Linked DNA regions of Homo sapiens: region 1 is linked to region 2. The links come from fine-mapping of genetic effects on gene expression. A gene starts in region 2. The other region holds a variant in brackets. All regions are shown on one strand. Distances are from middle to middle. Region 1 overlaps PDCD6IP (programmed cell death 6 interacting protein). Region 2 holds the start of PDCD6IP (programmed cell death 6 interacting protein).

What was found. PIP is the estimated chance that this variant, and not a neighbour inherited with it, causes the effect.
Region 1: its variant is the best candidate, but not a certain one, in a credible set for the expression of PDCD6IP in whole blood (INTERVAL, PIP 0.57).

The regions. Positions count from the first base shown.
Region 1 is chr3:33,855,873-33,863,872 of GRCh38, reverse strand. All of the region lies in intron 15 of PDCD6IP (programmed cell death 6 interacting protein), which reads right to left. Among named protein-coding and RNA genes, the nearest start is that of PDCD6IP, 61 kb to the right of the region's middle. The variant T/C (reference allele first, on the strand shown) is at 3,683.
Region 2 is chr3:33,790,921-33,801,848 of GRCh38, reverse strand. It overlaps PDCD6IP (programmed cell death 6 interacting protein), which reads right to left and starts at 3,219. Exons shown (of 18, transcript NM_013374.6): 1 at 2,912-3,219. The coding sequence starts at 3,120. PDCD6IP-DT (PDCD6IP divergent transcript) reads left to right here and starts at 3,330. Exons shown (of 2, transcript NR_183731.1): 1 at 3,330-3,454; 2 at 3,827-8,205. RefSeq lists enhancers at 2,523-3,056, 3,003-3,352.

The DNA of each region.
Region 1 (8,000 bases), 63 kb before region 2:
TACATTTCAAATTAGTACAGTGACTATGGAAAACAGTATGGAGGTCCCTCAAAAAACTAAAACTAGATCTACAATATGATCCAACAATCCCACTGCTGGGTATATATCCTAAAGAAAGGATATCCATATACTGAAGAGATATCTGTATTCCCATGTTTATTGCAGCACTTCCAACAGCCAAAATATGAATGCAACCTAAGTGTCCATCAGCAGATAAATGGATATAGTGTAGTATATATACACCATGGAATATTATTCAGCCATAAAAAATATAATGAAATTCTGTCATTTGCAGCAACATGGATGGAACTGGAGGCCATCATGATAAGTGAAATAAGCCAGGCACAGAAAGACAAATATTGCATGTTCTCCTCCATATGTGTGAGCTAAAAACAAGGAGACAGAGTAGAATGATGGTTACTAGAGTCAAGAAAGAGTAGGGGGTGGGGATGAAGAGAGGGTGGATAATAGGTACAAAAATACAGTCAGAGAGAATAAATAAGTTCTAGTGTTTAATAGCAGCATAGGGTGATGATAGTTAATGATAATTTATTGTATATTTCAAAATAGCTAGAAGATTTGGAATGTTCCCAACACAAAGAAATGATAAACGTTTGAGATGAATATCCTAATTGCCTTGATTTGATTATTATGCATTGTATTCATGTATCAAAATATCACATGTGCCCCACAAATATGTGATGAATATCCTAATTACCCTGATTTGATTATTACACATTGTATTCATGATCAAAGTATCACATGTACCCCATAATATGTATAATTATTTATCAATATAACAAAAACTGAAAAAAACAAAATATACTACATTTTTATTCTTGACTAGAATCTAAATCCTCTTTCTTCCTATTGTTTAATAAAATGAAGTTGTATCTTTTTTATATTTCTGAAGACTGGGGGAAAAAGTAAACATTTTCAGAGATCACAGTTACAGCTAGAGTAAGAAACGTGTCAAACTGGGCAAGTAATCCTAAAAGACTGCCCACCCTCTAATAAAAGGTAGTCCCTGGATTTAAAAAACTCCTAACATCATCTATCTAAAAGTTATCAGAAAACTACAGTGACTCATAGTTATGTAGCTAATGTTTTAATCACTATATCAGTGTTTATACAAAATAAAACAGGTGAAAAGGCTAACCTTTTATGCAAACCATTATGCAAATTTCTAGATAAAAACTTCCTGAAGATATTCAAAGAAATGTGGCGTTGAAATATTTTATATTAAAAGATAACACATCACCTGTCACTAAGATAAACTCATGAAAGATATATTGCTGAAAATACTATTACAATTTAGTATTAAATATTAGAAAATTCTGTCTCCTCTAACAGTAAATTGAAATTTATCCCAAAATCACACTAAACAATACCTAAGGTAAAATGCACTCCATGTAATACATGATGTCAATCATCTTTTCACTGCACTGATTAACGTACACAAAGAAGTAAATATGACATGTCCCAAAACATCTGAGACAGTACCTTTTGCCCTGATTTAACAATTAACAGCAAAGCCCCACACTGTCCGCATCCAACCTTCCCTCTCAAGAAGGGCCCCAGTCACTCCAGACATAAAGAAAACTAGTATACATTCATCAAAAAAAAAAAACAAAACTACTTCTTAAGTAAATAACTGCTTATAAAATAAATAAGTTTTTAATCAATATCAAAATTCTAAAAGGCCAGATTTTGAAATATCTAAAATATATACGTATATTATAAAGCTTTAACACAATACCTTTCTTTTCCTTTGATAAACTCTAGGGATGGTTGCAGTAAATAACACATTTATAGAGCAAATGATAATTTCCTAGCCACTTATAAAAGATATAAATCAATGCTATTAAATAAAATCAATAATGTAAAAGAGCAAAAAGATATAAAATAAAATGCCACTAGTACTATGCCCAACAACCTGACAGTAGTATTCAAACCATTAGTCAAAAGAAAGTAAAGCTCAGAGTAAAATATTCATTCTTCTTAAACGCTTTAAACTTCTGATGAAAGATTTCAATGAAAACAGAAATTAAAAAGCAAAGCCTCCAGCTAATAAGTATATAAAAAGGACATATTAGTCATCAGGAAAATGAAAAATTAAAATCATACAATGAGATAATACTACAAACCCAGCAGAATAGCTAAGGGCAAAAATGTGGAGCAACCAGGACTCTCATATATTGCTAGGAGGAATATAAATTAGTACAATCACGTTGGAAAACTATTTGACAATATCAACTGAGCATACACACATATCCTTTGACCTCGATATATACCCAACAGCACTGCATATAACATGCTCACCAAAAGCATGTACTGTCTAATACAGTAACCATTAGCCACACATGACTATCAAACATCTGAAATGTGGCTACTCTGAATTGAGATGTGTTGTAAGTATAAAATACATATTAAGCCGGGCTCGGTGGCTCACGCCTGTAATCCCAGCACTTTGGGAGGCCGAGGCGGGTGGATCAGGAGGTCAGGAGTTCAAGACCAGTCTGGCCAAGATGGTGAAACCCGTCTCTACTAAAAATACAAAAATTAGCTGGGCTTGGTGGTGGGCGCTTGTAATCCCAGCTACTCGGGAGGCTGAGGCAGAGAATTGCTTGAACCCAGGAGGCGGAGGTTGCAGTGAGCCGAGATCGTGCCACTGCACTCCAGCCTGAGCGACAGAGCAAGACTCCATCTCACAAAAAAAAAAAAATACAGATTAGATTTCTAAGACTTAGTGTGAAAAAAAGTAAAATATCTCTCATTTGTAATTTTACATTGATTATATGTTAAAATAATACTTTGGACATACTGGGTTAAATGAAATATTGAAATTAATTTCACCTGTTTTTTTTTTTTTAACTACGGCTACTACAAATTTTACATTTTCAATTGCATATGTCACTGCATAGTACTTCACCATATAGATGTAGTTTTATTTAATTAACCAGAACCAGACATTTGACTTGTTTCCATATTTTTACTGCTACCAGCAATACTGGACAGCAGTGATTTACAACATTCATGCCAGCACTATTTATAAAAGCTCAAAACTGGCAACTACTCAAAATATTCAACAGTAGAATAAATAACTTGTACATTCACATAATAAAATATATGCAGAAATGAGAATAAAAGATCTACAAATACACACAACTATACTGATGAATCTCACAAATATAATGTAGAATAAAAGCCAGTCATGGAAGAGTACATAATATGTGATTCTATTTATATACAATGCAAAAACAGGAGAAAGTAATCTATGTTCTTACAAGTTAGGATAGCGGTTGCCCTGGAAAAGAAAGATAAAGACTGACTGACTGGGTGGATGCATTAACAATGCTTTTAGGGTGCTGAGAATTTTCTGTGTATTGATTTAAGTGCTGGTTGCCTGGGTGTACGCAGTTTGTGAACATTCAACAAGATACACACTTATGTATACTTTTCCGGTATACATTATATCCAGTAAGATTTCAAAGGATTTTGGCCTTCAGTATTAACAACGACTTTAACAAAATAAACTCTCAGATATTCAAAAGCTAATATTATTATATGGCCTACTTTTCCATCTTTCATTCACCTTTCAATCACTGAGCTGAAAATACTTGACAAGTGTAAATAAAATATATACTTGTTTACAACAAACCTGATTTTTAAATTAGATATA[T/C]GAAATATAAAATATTTTAAATGACGATATTCCAATCTTTCTTCCTTAGAATATCCAGAGCTTCCTTGTGCGTAAACAAGCCAATTTCTATATTTGTTATTTTCTTCCTTTTTACACAAAACATACTCTACACACTGTTCTGTGTCTTTTTACCATAACTATCTTGGAGATCTTTCCATATCAGTAAATTGAAAACACCCTGATTTTTAAAATAGCTGCACAGCATTTCACTATACAAGTATAGCTTTATTTCACCAGCCCTGGTCACTTTGTTTCTACTTTTTTACTGCTATTTGCAATGTAGAAATGAATAAGCTCATAAATATGTCATTTCTAGCATATTCTAATATATCCTCAGAATAGACTCCCAAAAACAGAATGGCTGGATTAAAGGATGTTTGAATTTGCAGTCTTATTATTCTTTACAGCTAAAATGCCCAACACAAGGATTGCACCATTGGGTATTCTCACGGCAATGTATGAAATCTATTTCTCCAACATGTGACAACAAAGCATATTATCAAACTTTCAGATTCTTGCCAATCTGAAAAATATTACTTCAGACTAATTTTAATTTGTATTTTATAATGAATGAGGGTATTCATTTTTTTTCATTTATTTAAGAGCCATTTGTATTTCCTTGTCTGCAAAATTCTGTTTGCGTCTTCTCCTCAGTTTTCTATTGGGTTTTCTTCTCGTTCACTTCTAGGAGTTCTTTTCTAAATAAAGTAAATTAGCCTTTTGCCTGTGAATAAGTTTCAAATATTGGATTCCCAATTTGTCATATCCTGACTCTGTTTATCATATTTCTATGAGAAACTTATTCTTTTCTTTTTTTTTAATGGCTTCTGGATTTTAAGTAGGAGTTATTAGATCCTGCTCATCCCAGCTTTATTACGGAATTCTCCTCCATTCTATTTTACACCTTATATTTCATTTACAAATTTCAAGTTTGGTCCACTCAGAACTTACTCTGGTATAAAGATAACTTTTATTTTCTAAATGGCTGGGCAGTTGTCCACCTCTTCTGGTTGGCTGAAGATCTTTTACACTAAATTCACGTATGTATTTGAATCTATTTCTATTTTCTATTCTGTCTTTGTCTAATCATGTACCAGTACCACTGTGTTTTAATTAAATATGGTATTATATACCTTAATATCTGGTAGAACTAGTATTCCTTCACTACTCTTTTTATTGTTTTCCTGGCTGACCTTGTTTCTTTTTCTACTTGAACTTTAGGATCAACTTGTCTAATTCCAAATGAAAAGCTGCTGATTTTTTTTAATCAAAAGCATGTTTGCATATCAAAAGCATGTTTGCATATCAAAAGCATATGAATGCATGTTTATTTCTTTTGTTTTGTTTTGTTTTTGTTTTTGAGACAGAGTCTCACTCTGTTGCCCAGGCTGGAGTACAGTGGTGCAATCTCAGCTCACTGCAAGCTCCGCCTCCCGGGTTCACGCCATTCTCCTGTCTCAGCCTCTCGAGTAGCTGGGATTACAGGCGCCCGCCACCACGCCCAGCTAGTTTTTTGTATTTTTAGTAGAGACGGGGTTTCACCGTGTTAGCCAGGATGGTCTCGATCTCCTGACCTCGTGATCCGCCCGCCTCAGCCTCCCAAAGTGCTGGGATTTCAGGCGTGAGCCACCGCGCCTGGCCGCATATGTTTATTTCTTTATTTATGTTTGTTATTAGAGATAGGGTCTCACTGTTGCCCAGACTGGAGTACAGTGGCTATTTACGGTACAATCATAGCGCACTACAACCTAGAACTCTAGGGCTCAAACCATCCTCCCACTTCAATCTCCCAAGTAGCTGGGACTAGAAGTGCATGCCATCACGCCCAGTTGATGCATAAGTTAACTTAGAATTGACATCTTTATGAAGTTGAGTCATCCTGTCCAAGAACATGTTTTTTAACTTGCTCAAGCCTTCTTTTTGAAATACTGTTTTCTTCACATAGGTCTCATATATGACAAACTTATATTTTATATTTTATCCTTTTTGTTGCTACTGTAAGTGGGTCTCTTCATCTTATCCTCTATAGGTTTATTTACATGAAAGCCACTGATTTCTACAAATTATTTTTATGATCAACAACTTCAGTAATAATAATTTTATTATTTGCAGAGTTTTGGGGTTCTCTTGGGTTTTCAAGTAGTTGTACAATCATAATGTCTGTAAATAGTGCTAGTTTTACTTCTTCCTTTCCAATTTTTTAATTTCTCTCTCATGTGATTGTCTTGGCTGGTACTGCAGTATAGTATTTAAAAATAGTGCTGACAGTGACATTTGTTGTCTGTTCTTGACTTCAGAGGGAACTGTTTATAGTGCTTCTCCATTAATCACTATACTGAGTTTTGGGCAGAAATATATACACACACATACATATATATATTTTCATGTTACGGAAGCATCTATCTTCTATCTATTCTTATTTTACTGAGTATCAGAACACTCATTTTCTCAAATGCTTCTGCCTCATCTATTAAGACAAACCTGTGATCTTTCCTTTGATGTGAAAATACTGAATACTGAAACTGGAATAAATGCCCCCCTCCCCTTGGTCAATAATTATTTTTTAACGTCCTGGTGACTATTACTGGCAAATACTTTATTTAGGACTTCTGCATCCATATTCATAACTGAAACTGGTCTGTAGACTGTTTTGTATTAATCTTTGTTAGGTTTTTTTATCATTAAGACTAATATGGAGAATACTCATCTTTTTTTAGGCTGGGGGGGTGGCTCACCCCTATAATTCCAATTACCTGAGGTCAGGAGTTCGAGACCAGCCTGGCCAACATGGTGAAACCCTGTCTCTACTAAAAATACAAAAATTAGCCAGGCGTGGTGGTGCACACCTGTAATGCCAGCTACTTAAGAAGCTGAGGCAGAAGAACTGCTTGAACCCGGGAGGCAGAGGTTGCAGTGAGCCAAGACTGCACCACTGCACTCCAGCCTGGGCGACAGAGCAAAACTCCATCTAAAAAAAAATCACCTTTTTTTAAACATTTAGAACCATTTTTAAAACATTCTAATTATTTGCTTTTTATAGGTTTAGTAGAAATATTCTAAAAACAACTAACCTGCTCTTTGTTAGAGGTAGAAGAAAATAACTTCTCTCATGAACATGAGCAGAGAGGTGAATGAACATGAACATGTTCATTCTCTGTTCATGAATATGAACAGAGAGATGAATAAAGATCTAGTTGGCTGAAAGGGTCATCGGTATAAGACTCTTTCAGCTCTTTATATTTATTACTAATGAATATATGGCTTTTTATGTACCCAAAAGACAGTCTGGATATAAAATCTTTAGCATGTATTTACTATATGATATAAAATCTTTAGCTCATATTTACTATCCTTGAGATTACAGCAATCACTCCACTCTCTTCTGGCATACAGAGCTGCCAGCCTAATTTTTTTCACCTTTTTATAAACTGGCTTGACTGTTTTGCCTGACTGCCTAAAGGATTCTGCCATTATCTTTTAAGGCCAATAATTTATATGCCTTGATGCTGACAGTTCTTGTCATTTTCCCCTACCATATGATATCCTCTTTCAACAATCTTCACTTAAGAAAATGTTCTTGAGTATCATTAAATAAGTGTTCTGTTTACAGAACGTTAAATAACTGTTCTATCTGGTTTTTCTTCTGAGAGAAATTCAGTTTTGCCTATATTAGATCTTCTGTGCCCATTTTCTCTCTAATTCTTTCTTGACTTTGGTTTCATTTTAATTTCCTCATTTCTACTCTGTGTTCCTGTGTGTTCTTTAGTGTTTATTCGCCCTTTGTGCTCTTTCCCATGTCACGGTTTTATTCTTCCCTTCTACTTCTTTCCTGAATTCTGACACCTCACATCTTATCACTTCCTGTTTTCTTACCATATTCCTGCAGTTCTGGAATTTCTGCTCAAAGTGTTCCTTAGAGGAGCAGTCCCCAACCTTTTTGGCACCAGGGACCGGTCTCATGGAAGACAATTTTTCCACAGGGGAGCGGAAGATGATTTCAGGATGAAACTGTTCCACCTCAGATCATCAGGCATTAGTCAGAGTCTCATAAGGAATGCACAACCTAGATCCCTTACACGGGCAGTTCACAATAGAGTTTGCGCTCCTATGAGAATCTAATGCTGTGGCTGATCTGACAGGAGGTGGGGCTCAGGCAGTAATACTCGCCCAGCTGCCCGCCTGTCTGCCACCCACCTCCTACTGTGCAGCCCAGTGCCTAACAGGCCACGAACCAGTACCAGTCCAAGGCCCCAGGATTGGGGACCCCGGCCTTAGAATGATTGCCTCCTTACATTTG
Region 2 (10,928 bases):
TCTAAAGAAACTGATCACCACAAAAGAAATTACACAATGCTGGTAAATGGTATATCTGGAGCTTCAAATAAAATACAAAATAAAAATAAAAAACCAGCAGGGTTCCCATTTGATCACCCTAGGTCACCATTTACCAAGGTCTAATCAATTTTTAGTAAAAGCCACTTTATAAAGGAAGAAGTATCATATAAAAGGGTTTTTTGTTGTTGTTGTTTTGTTTTGTTTTGAGACAGCGTCTCAGTATGTAGTTCAGGCTGGTCTCCAACTCGTGGGCTCTAGTGATCCTTCTGCCTCAGCTGGAATTATGAGTGCATGCTACCACACCCAGAACAAATGAGTTTTTAAGTACTCATTCTCATTATTATAATATGCATAAATGTATATTTTAGGAAATTTTAATAGAACACCTACAAGTTAGTAATAAGAAAACAAGTCTATCACTGGAGCAATATATGGAGCTGCATATCAGGACTTATCAAGCTGGCTTCAATTATTTAGGAATTAGTTTAAACTCTGTTTTTCAAAGTTCATTAGTTTAAAAAGTTCATTAAGTTAAAAAATTAATGTTAAGTTTACACAATTATCCAAACATAATTATTAAAAATAAGATATTCTGCCGGATTTGAATGAACATCACACAACTGATTCACATCTAATTTTACAGCGTATATACCTACAAAACTTTTGTACCTACCTCCATTATAAACTTTAGTAATATCTCCAAGCTTACCCTAACCCCTCTAGAAGCCCAAAAAGTGAAAATACTTAATATTTGTTGAATTAATGTGGCAGGAGGGGATTATACAGAGGTGACTAAAGAAACATGGTTAGTTTCAAAGAGACTATATCTACAACAGGTCCACTACCTAGGAACAGTTCACACATTTAAGTCTGGTAAAAAGAATAAAGGAAGGAACAAATGAATTAAGTTTTAAAGTTGACAGGAGAACCGTATCCAAACCATTATCCACCAACCTCCCATGTCTGTTAGCTTAAAACCCATGCACCAAGTGCTTCTGAAGACCCCAAATCTGAGGGCTGGAACCAAATTTGATATATTCAACAAGATTTTTATCACAGGGCTCATTATACCACAACTATGTTTTCTTAATATTACTAATGGAAAATCCTCACTGAATGCTATTCATGCCTACATAAAAATTACCTTGAAATTGTTTAATTATGTTAATTCTAAAGAATGGCTAAGTATTTCTAGGTTAACTTTAAAAAAAATGCTTATGCTATTAGACTAATGATCCTTGCAGCCCAACAGTTGTAGCTCTAAAATTTGACACCAAGGGGTCTTAATTCCTCTGAGCAATCTATTCAGTACCCCTTCCTTCGGAGAACCAACCCTTCCCCAGTCCGGACTCATCTTGCTTTGATCCATGGGGTAAGGAGAAATTAAACCGGCTGGATGACTCAGATAAGGGCAATTAACTTAGCCCATTTCCCACCATCATAAATGGGTGCAAACAAACCCAGGAGCCTCCCATGGACTTCCACCAGAGCTAAGGAGAAAAGCACTCCCTTCTGTAAGATACTGAGTGTTGCGGACGATTGTTATTACACTACAGCCATCCCTCTCAATACATGAACAAAGCTTTCGAGGGAAGCATCACGGAGGCAAGACGATCTCCAGTGATACCTAAAGCTAAGGAAGGAATATCCCTAGACTTTTCAGTTAGCAGAATAAGTCTTACTTTTTTTTTTTTTTTTTTTTTTTTTTGAGATGGAGTCTCACTCTGTCGCCCAGGCTGGAGTGCAGTGGCGCGATCTCGGCTCACTGCAAGCTCCGTCTCCCAGGTTCACACCATTCTCCTGCCTCAGCCTCCCGAGTAGCTGGGACTACAGGCACCCGCCACCACGCCCGGCTAATTTGTTGTATTTTTAGTAGAGATGGGGTTTCACCGTGCTAGCCAGGATGGTGTCGATCTCCTGACCTCGTGATCCGCCCGCCTCGGCCTCCCAAAGTGCTGGGATTACAGGCGTGAGCCACCGCGCCCGGCAGAATAAGTCTTTTCTTAGCTCAAGCTAGTTTAGCCTGGGTTTCTGCTACTTGGATTGGAATACAATTGTGATTCTCCTGTGAAACAAGTAGAATATACTATACGGAGAAAACGAGATTAACAAGGTATGCAAAAGAAATGTTTAACTATAAAATCGTAAAAAATGTTCTTATAACTATTAAGTATCATGAAAGGAACCCTCATTAAATCAGCATGAGCTAAATAAGCGTTTGCTAAAATAACAAATTTACTCTACTGTGTATATATCTGTTTGTGAACAAACTGCTTTTAAACAACCTACCTTGAACGGTTCAACTATGTAACTAGAGTTTTATTTCAAATAGTTGTAGCTCCTAACTTTCAGAATTCTCCATCTATCATTTGATTATTTTGAACTGAGGAAGACGGTCCATTTCATGTGGACAATGTGATGAGCTGATCAGACATTTGGTCCAGTGTCCCAATTCCCCCACTTCCCCCACTGCCTTCAAGCAACTACTATTATGAAATCAAAATGTGGCCCAAGAAAGACAGTGATGGAAAAATGGGGCGAAAGGGGAAGCTTCAGTTAGAGACCCAAAAAAGTGAAGACTAGTTCTAAGTAAATGTGGCAAAAGAGATCAGTACAGGGCAGACTGCTGCTCCCAGGTATCTGATCCACGGAGCCCTCGCCGACCAAGGGCTAGAGCAGACGTGCAGGCAGGACAAGCGGGCAGTCACAGCGGGCCTGCAGGGCGGGTCCTGCTCACCAGCAAAGAATGCAGACCACACCTACGCGCCTGGTCAGGCCGGGACGGGGCGGCTCCGCCCAGGTTACAGGATTGAAGGAAGGGGGGAGACGGGAAGAGGAGCGGCGAGCGACGGCTGGCAGACAACCTACCCACTCCCAGCCCCGCGCCCACCTCAGGAGCGTCTCGAGCGCGCCCTCGTGCTTGTCCAGCGGACGACCGACTGCGGCGCGGCGCAGCTTGCTGAGCTCCTCCGCCGCGCGGCAGTACTGGGCCTGCTCTTCCCCGCCGCTTGGGTAAGTCTGCTGGATGAACTTCACCAGCGGCTTGGCCAGGTCCACCTCTGAGGTCTTTTTCAGCTGCACCGAGATGAATGTCGCCATGATCAGCGCCTCCGCCGCCGTTCGGGCCAAACAGACCGCGGACAGCTTACGAGGGCCGAGGAGAGAGAGGTACTGGGCTGGCGGACTGGCGGACTGACTGGCTGACAGACTTGCGCTCCGCCTGCGTTCCGGGTCCGGCAACTTCCGGGAGCTCCAGCGCAGGCGCACTGGATGCGGGGTCCTTAAGCTGTCCGCGGTCACGTGAAGGTGTCGCGGCGGCTACGCCCACCTGGACCCAGTTTACCCTGTACTGTGCTGCAAAATATTACTTTCTCCCCATCTGGAATTCTTCCCTTCCTCCTTCCTGCCGCAGTGGTGTACTGAGCACTTTCACGTAAGAGTATTCCTCCACTCGAACAACCCCCCGGAGAAGTACTGGTGTCACTGCCACCTGCGAGAGTTTGCGGCTACCTCCCCAAGAGGCAGTCCCAGGGTTATTGTGACCTATGATGTTTATTCAACTACTGTTGACGGGCTGCTGTGCACAGGGAACCTAGTAGGCAAGACCCCTGCCATCGTGCAGCTTACTGTCAGGTTGACACAGACCTTAAGGTAAACGGAAAAAGTATCAGGAAAAAAACAGGGTGCTTGGGACTTAGGAGATGTTAAGATCGCTTGGAGGACCCTAATTTAAATAAGATAAAGTAGGTTTTCTCCGAGTAGGTTAACTGAAAATGAACCTGTGTCTCTGGTTGCTGTTTTGTAGAAAGAACAAAATTTTAAATAAATTAAAAACGACACCTGTAATTTGAGAAGATGCTTGATATCAGAAGAGGAGAAGAGTGGAGAGGGGTGGAGTGGCAAAGGAGAGCCTCCAAACCAAAAGCCTGCGGCAGAGGCCCTAGGAGGCAAGCACTTAACCATGTTTCAGGACTAGAAACGAAACATGTGACAAGACCTTTAAAAACAAATAGAATGGGATGGAATAAAGTTGGATGAGTAAGCAGGCATCAAATCATTCAGAAACTTGTTGTCCAAGTTGAAGAATTTGTTTAGTATTGTATAATAAATGCAGAGGAAGCTATATACACTTATAATTTACATTTTTTAAAGGCCACGTTGTAGCTCAATCGGATAGTTTGTCTTTTGATGGGATGTAGTATACAGTATCATCATGGTATATTCCAGGCAAAAATATTTAACTTGAATCTGTCAAGCCTTTGCATCTAACACAGTTTATAAAAAATACAACAGATAGATGAACAAACTAAATGATGCCAGAGGAAGTAACTAGACAGATCCAGAAGGTGAAACATTCTGCAGGATAACTGGCCCATCTCTTCAACAATTTGTCATGATAAAAGCAACTGCTTTATGAAAAGAAATTTAAGGGACATAACAGTTTGAATTGGATCCTGGTTTGAACAGACTGTCTATAAAATGCATTTTCAGGACCATTAAAGAAATATGAATGTAGATGGACTGAGTATTGGATAAAATAGAACTGTATTGCCATGGAAAAGATCATTAACTGAAAAGAGCAAGTCACGAAATAGTATGTTACAGCATCTCATTTTGGTTTAAAAATGCACATATATGTATTTATGTACAACTAAAAAAATAGTGGGCTTATACCCTAAGGTGTTAGTATTGGTAATCTTTGGAAGTGGAAATGTGTATTTTTTTCTTTGTGTTTGCCTATCTTTTTCATTGTAACTTTTGCAGCACATAGACTACTTTCATTATAGTAAAAGTTTATTTTACCACAATTTTTTTTTTTTTAGAAAGAGTCTCACTCTGTCACCCAGGCTGGAGTGCAGTGGCACAATCTCAGCCCACTGCAACCTCCACCTCCCAGGTTCAAGCTATTCTCCTGCCTCAGCCTTCTGAGTAGCTGGGACTACAGGTGCACACCACATGCCTGGCTAATTTTTGTATTTTTAATAGAGACTGGATTTCGCGATGTTGGCCCGGCTGGTCTCGAACTCCTGGCCTCAAGTGATCCACCCGCTTTAGCCTCCCAAAGTGCTGGGATTACAGGCGTGAGCCACTGCACCCGGCCTATTTTACCACAATTTATAAAAATTTTTGTTTATTTTAATTAAGCTATTCTATGTTAAAATAAGTAGCCACCCTTGGCTGATGCATAAAGAAAAAATTAGAGGAAGGAAAGAATGGAGGCAAGGAGGCAAATCATGAGACCATTTCAGAAATCAAGACGAAATCAGGAAAGCTAACATTAGCAAGAGTGAACCAAACTGATAATATCTTTGAGTTTAAAACTGAAGAATTTACCAATGAACTGCATAGGAAAGTAAAGAAAAGAGAGTGGTCAAGATAGGTCCTGGTTTTGGGGCCTGAACATCTGAGTGGTTAGTAGAATCATTACCAGTTGATAACCCATGGAAGAGGGTGGGGGATGGGTGGTGTCTTGTAGGTTGGTTGACAGGACTGACCCATTGGGAAGATAACGAAGAAGCAAAGTATATGAAAAGAGGAGAAAGGGTAACCAGAGGAGGGAGGATACAAAGGGAGTGATTAGCCATCAGAAAGATGAGGGACATGACATTTGTTGAGGCAGATGGCGGAGAAAAGAAAGTTAACATAGATGTGGTTAGTTTTGTGGCATTGACCAAAGGAAGATTAAGGTGATACTATCTGATGGCTTGGAATGAAAACCAAACTCCCTGCCACAACATGATGATCTTTCTCTGCAACTTCATATTTTGCCTCTTGTTCCTCATTTGTTACCACTGAGTCACAATGGTCTTTTTAGTTTCTCAAACACACCAAGATCTTTCTTGCCTCATGTGACCTAGAATGTTTTCTCCCTTTCTTCATATCTCAGTTGAAAGGTCTCCTCTCCTCATCATCATACTATCTAAAGTAGATTCCCTCCCTTGTTAACCTCTAGCGCAGCCATTAGTTCCTTCATAACACTTACCCTAACTTGCAAGTATTTTGTTTGTTGATATAATTTTTATCTGACTTCCCCACTAAAATGTAAGCTCCATGAGGGCAAAAATTGTGTGTTTTGTATACTGATGCATCTCTAGCACTTGGTATAGCAGGCATTCAATAAATATCATTAAATAAGTTTCACCCTTGTAAAAAAAAAAAATATATATATATAAAATATATTCTCTACTTCCAAAATAACACACTTTCACCAACAACAAGCACTCCAGCTAATTAGGCAATAGGCCAATAAGCAAAGAATTATGGTATATTAGTCAAGATTGGCTAGCTTATGTTCTGACAATAAACAATTTCAAAATCTCAGTTTCAATTTTAAACTCAAAGATACTAATAAACATTTGTTCTTTGCTCACACAAAGTCTAATATGGAACAGGCTTAGAGTTGTCCTCCAACCAGTGTCTGAGCAATCCAGACCACTTTGATCTTGTAACTCTGCCATCCCAACATGAGATTCCACTTTCACTGCAGAAGAGGAAATCTGTAGCATCATGCAGCAGCTTGTCACTACCTCAGCCCTCCTACTTCCACTTGCATTTCACTAGCTAGAACCTTTCACATGGCTCCACCAAACTGCAATGGGACTGGGAAGGGAGAATCAGATATTAGGGAGCATTTATAATGCCTTCCAAGGGTGTGTTTCACTGCTTCCAAACTTGCTTATGATGATGTTTTTCATTTATGTAATGAAATGCCATATGTTCTTAGTGTGTATTCTCAGCATAACGAGTACATTTGGAGAATATTAAGTCAGTGGACTTTCCTTCTTGAAAATTCCTGGTTCTGGGCCTATCATTAACCCCACTGATTGAACCAGTGGAAATAGTTGCCTCTTCGAATGGAGAGAACCCTGCTGAAGGCAGCTTTGAGTTTCAAAATAGTGTGTTTCAAGTCCACATGGAGACGATAGCCTGAAAGTAAGCACTTATGATTTTTGGAGGAGTCTTTGTTATTAAGGAGAAAAGAGGCTTACAGAAGTCAGATTCAGAAGACTGTAGTATTTTTACAATAAATGAGAGTAAACAGTATAAGGATTTGATGTAAGGGAAGTTCCTGCAGTGCAAGAAAGAAAGTCCTTTTGGTGCTGAGCGGAACAGTCTAAGAGAGAAAAGGTGAAGAACAAAAGGAAAATGTAAATGTGGTATTCACACTTCCCTACTCCACACTCAGGATAAACCTAGAGTATGAGGTAGAGGCGGGAATCTAGAGGGGAGGAAGCATAGAATAGGAACACCCAAATAGACTTGATGAAACAAAAAACATCAAGGATGGCTCCCGTGTCACCTGGGAAGACACACTTCATGTAAGGAATGGAAAAAAGGCAATGGTAAGGGACAGGGGCCCTGGATTTTTTACAACATGCGATAGAGAACTATTTGTCTCCTTAATTTATTTAACTTTAAAAAATAATAATGAATGAAAGAAAAATTACCCATTTTTCAAATATGGGTGTGTAAGTTTTTTCCACTTTGTACAAAAAATTTTAAAGAAACGAAAACTGCTGAACACCTTATATTCAGAATTACTCCCTGTATAAGCCCATTCCAATTCCATATACTGCTGATTAAATTTCCATCAGTTGGCAGTTCTCTAATATCAGTTTCACTGCTATTTAACTAACTACTGCCCTTTGCTACCAGTGTCTCTCTTGGATGAGAGTCACTTTACTTGAATAAGATAACTTCTGAGAATAAATCTATGCACTATTTTGGAAGAATTGCTCTATAGAGTAAAAAATAATTCTGGATAATTGAAAGTTATCTTGTGAGTATCTGGACATTAAGGATACATTTCAAGACTCCTGTTTTCACTAAAATCCAATATTTGTTTAAGCACTTCAAGTTAAAGAGGAGCACCTTCCCCTTTCACCCTGACTATCGTTGTTAATTCGTTTTTGAAGCTATATAAGAACGTTTCTTTAATCGGTTTTCCCTTAGGCATACATTAGCTCTCTGTTCAAGACTTAGTAGCAGAGAGTAGTAAGTAAATGGTTATTAGTGGTTCTTCATATAAAACACATTTGAGTTTCTTAGAAGAAAACTATGCATAAAGATTACTTTCAGATATCATGTCTGTAGTTCGTTAATAGAGAAGTTTCTCTGAACGTGTGGAACACTGTAATAAGATAAATAAATTTTTAAAAAGAAAAAGTAAGCATATATACAAAATGTATGTAATTTCATTTGTCTTCACTTATTTAATATTTATAACCATACATTAAATGAAAACCAAATCCTACAAGCTTCATGGTACAAAGTTTTGGTAATACTTGGATGACCAGACTAAGTTATTCAGCAGATATTTTTTGAGCTTATACTGTGTGCCAAACAAAATGTAGTTCAAGAGAATTCTATGACCAATCTATTAATCTATTGTATATATTTACAGAGGTCTTTAATCCACCCTTATATAAGGTAGTTCAGCAAACAGTTCATAGGAGGAGGTCTAGGAAAGCAGTTAAGGAAAGTCCTAAAATGGCAGCTCTGCAGCAAGCAGAAAGTACAACTAGCCCAGAATAAGGAGAGGGTGGAGGGGCGCAGGAGGAAGATCCAATAGAGGGAAAAAAAAGGTTGAAGGGATTAGATAGAATAAAAACCACCAGGGTTCTCGTTGGAAAAATTATTCTTTTCCCTTTGTAATTAACAACTAATTTGTGGGAATATAATTCGAGGCTATTAAACATACTGTTCCACATTAAACTTTCTTCCACTAGTTTTAGCATACTTCGATGATTCTTCCATGAATCTAATATTTCTGTGATGATTGCAAAATGGTAATTTTCTTATCCATTATTCTGCCTATATCTATTAGCTGACATTATTCTAGAAAGAAGAATTTTCTTTTCTCCCTTATTTATTCATTTATATGTTTATACCAGCATGGACCCATAGATTTTTATTTAATTTGGTAGATTATAATCTGTTATTATTATTTATTTTGACGCTCAGATTGTCCAAGATTTGACTGATATGAACACCCTCAAGCTGGCTCCTGTGTTCTTTTTCTTCCAATATTTTCTTTTCTTTTCTTTTCTCTTCTTTTCTTTGTTTTTTTGTTTTGTTTTTTTGAGACAGGGTCTGGCTCTTTTGCCCAGGCTGGAGTGCAGTGGTGCAGTCATGGCTCACTACACCCTCAACCTTCCAGGCCCAGGCTCAAGCAATTATCCTACCTCAGCCTCCCAAGTAGCTAGGACTACAGGTGCACACTACCATGCCCGGCTAATTTATTTGTTTATTTTTTGTAAAGACGGAATATCCCTATGTTGCCGAGGCTGGTCTCAAACTCCTGGACTCCAGGGATTCTCCTGCCTCAACTTCACAATTCATTTTTAAAATTTCAGCCACAGCATAGAGTTTTGCAATAAACACTCACCTACCCACCACCTAGATTCTAACATTAACATTTTACTATGCATGCTTTATCTCACATTTGTCCATCTAATCTTCCCTCTATCCACCCATAAATCTACCTTGCTTTTTGGATCCATTTCATAGTAAGTTGCAGTCATCAGAAAGGAAAAGTAAAATAAGTAAATTTATTGGTAAATAGGCAATTGATGGGAGTCAAAAGATATTTAAATGATATCAATGAATGTCACTTAAAGTTAAAAAATCGAATAGCAGAAGGAGGTAAAGAAAAAAGGAAGTAAAGAAAAAGACTTTTAAAATGACTCACAAAAGAAAACCCAATGTGATAGATTATAAAATTGGCCACAAACTCTTCCTCTCCCTTTATCATGATTTTGCAGTGTGACATTGCAGATCTTCCCACCAGGAAGTGGAGTCTTTTTCTGCACCCTTTAAGTCTAGGTCGTTGATGTGAGCTGCTTTGGCCAATGGGGCATTAGCAGTTGTGATGCAAGCAGACACTTCAGTCATCAGGGTTTGTCCTCTCTTACTGCACTTGCAACCCCGTGACCTCCATGTGTACCGTCTTGCCTGCTGGATTATGAGAGACGTGGTTGAGTCACTCTCCTAGCCCTAACCAACAGTCTGCTAATTGTCAGACATATGAACAAGGCTATCTTAGATCATCCAACAACCAGGCAACACCCTAGATGACCTCAGACACAGAAGCAAGCACCTGAGAGATCAACTGAGCCAATCTAGACCAGAACTGTTAAGCCAACCTACAGAATTATGAGCTAAATAAATGGCTGGTTTTTAAGTTTTGGCATGGTTTGTTATGCAACAGAAGCTAACTGATACACTATCATTATGGTACATGCAAGCAACATACCTAAAACAAAATGATTCAGAAAGGCTAAATAGAAAGGAATAGACAGACATACTAGGTGCTGTGGACTGAATGTGTACCCCCAACAGTCACTTCTTGAAATTCAGTTCCAAATGCGATGGTATTTGGAGGTGGGACCTTTGGAAGGTAATTAGATTGTGAGCACAGAGCCCTCATGAATAGGATTAGTGCCCTTCTAAGAAGAGACGCAACAGCACTTGCTTCCTCTCTCACTCTGCTATGTGAGGATACAGTAAAAAGGTGTCTATATGCAAAGCAGTAAGAGGGCACTCACCAAAACCCAATCATGCTGGTACCCTGCTCTTAGACTTCACATCCTCCATAACCGTAAGAAATAAATGTTGTTGAAGCCACCCAATCTATAACAGCTTGAACTAACTAAAACACCAGACAAATGGAAACAATAGGAGTGCAGGGTCGTTCTTTTGATATCAGACAATTCAGACCAAAAAGGCTTAAATGTAATTAAGGACATTTCATAATGCTAAAGGCTAAAATTATCCAGAAAAAAAAATGTAGCTAAAAGCCACAATAAAGATAAGAGTTTGAAATATCAAACTTTTGTATCAGCTAACCCAAAATATCTGTGTACCAAGTAACACAGCAACCACCATCATAAAAAAGAAACTATGGG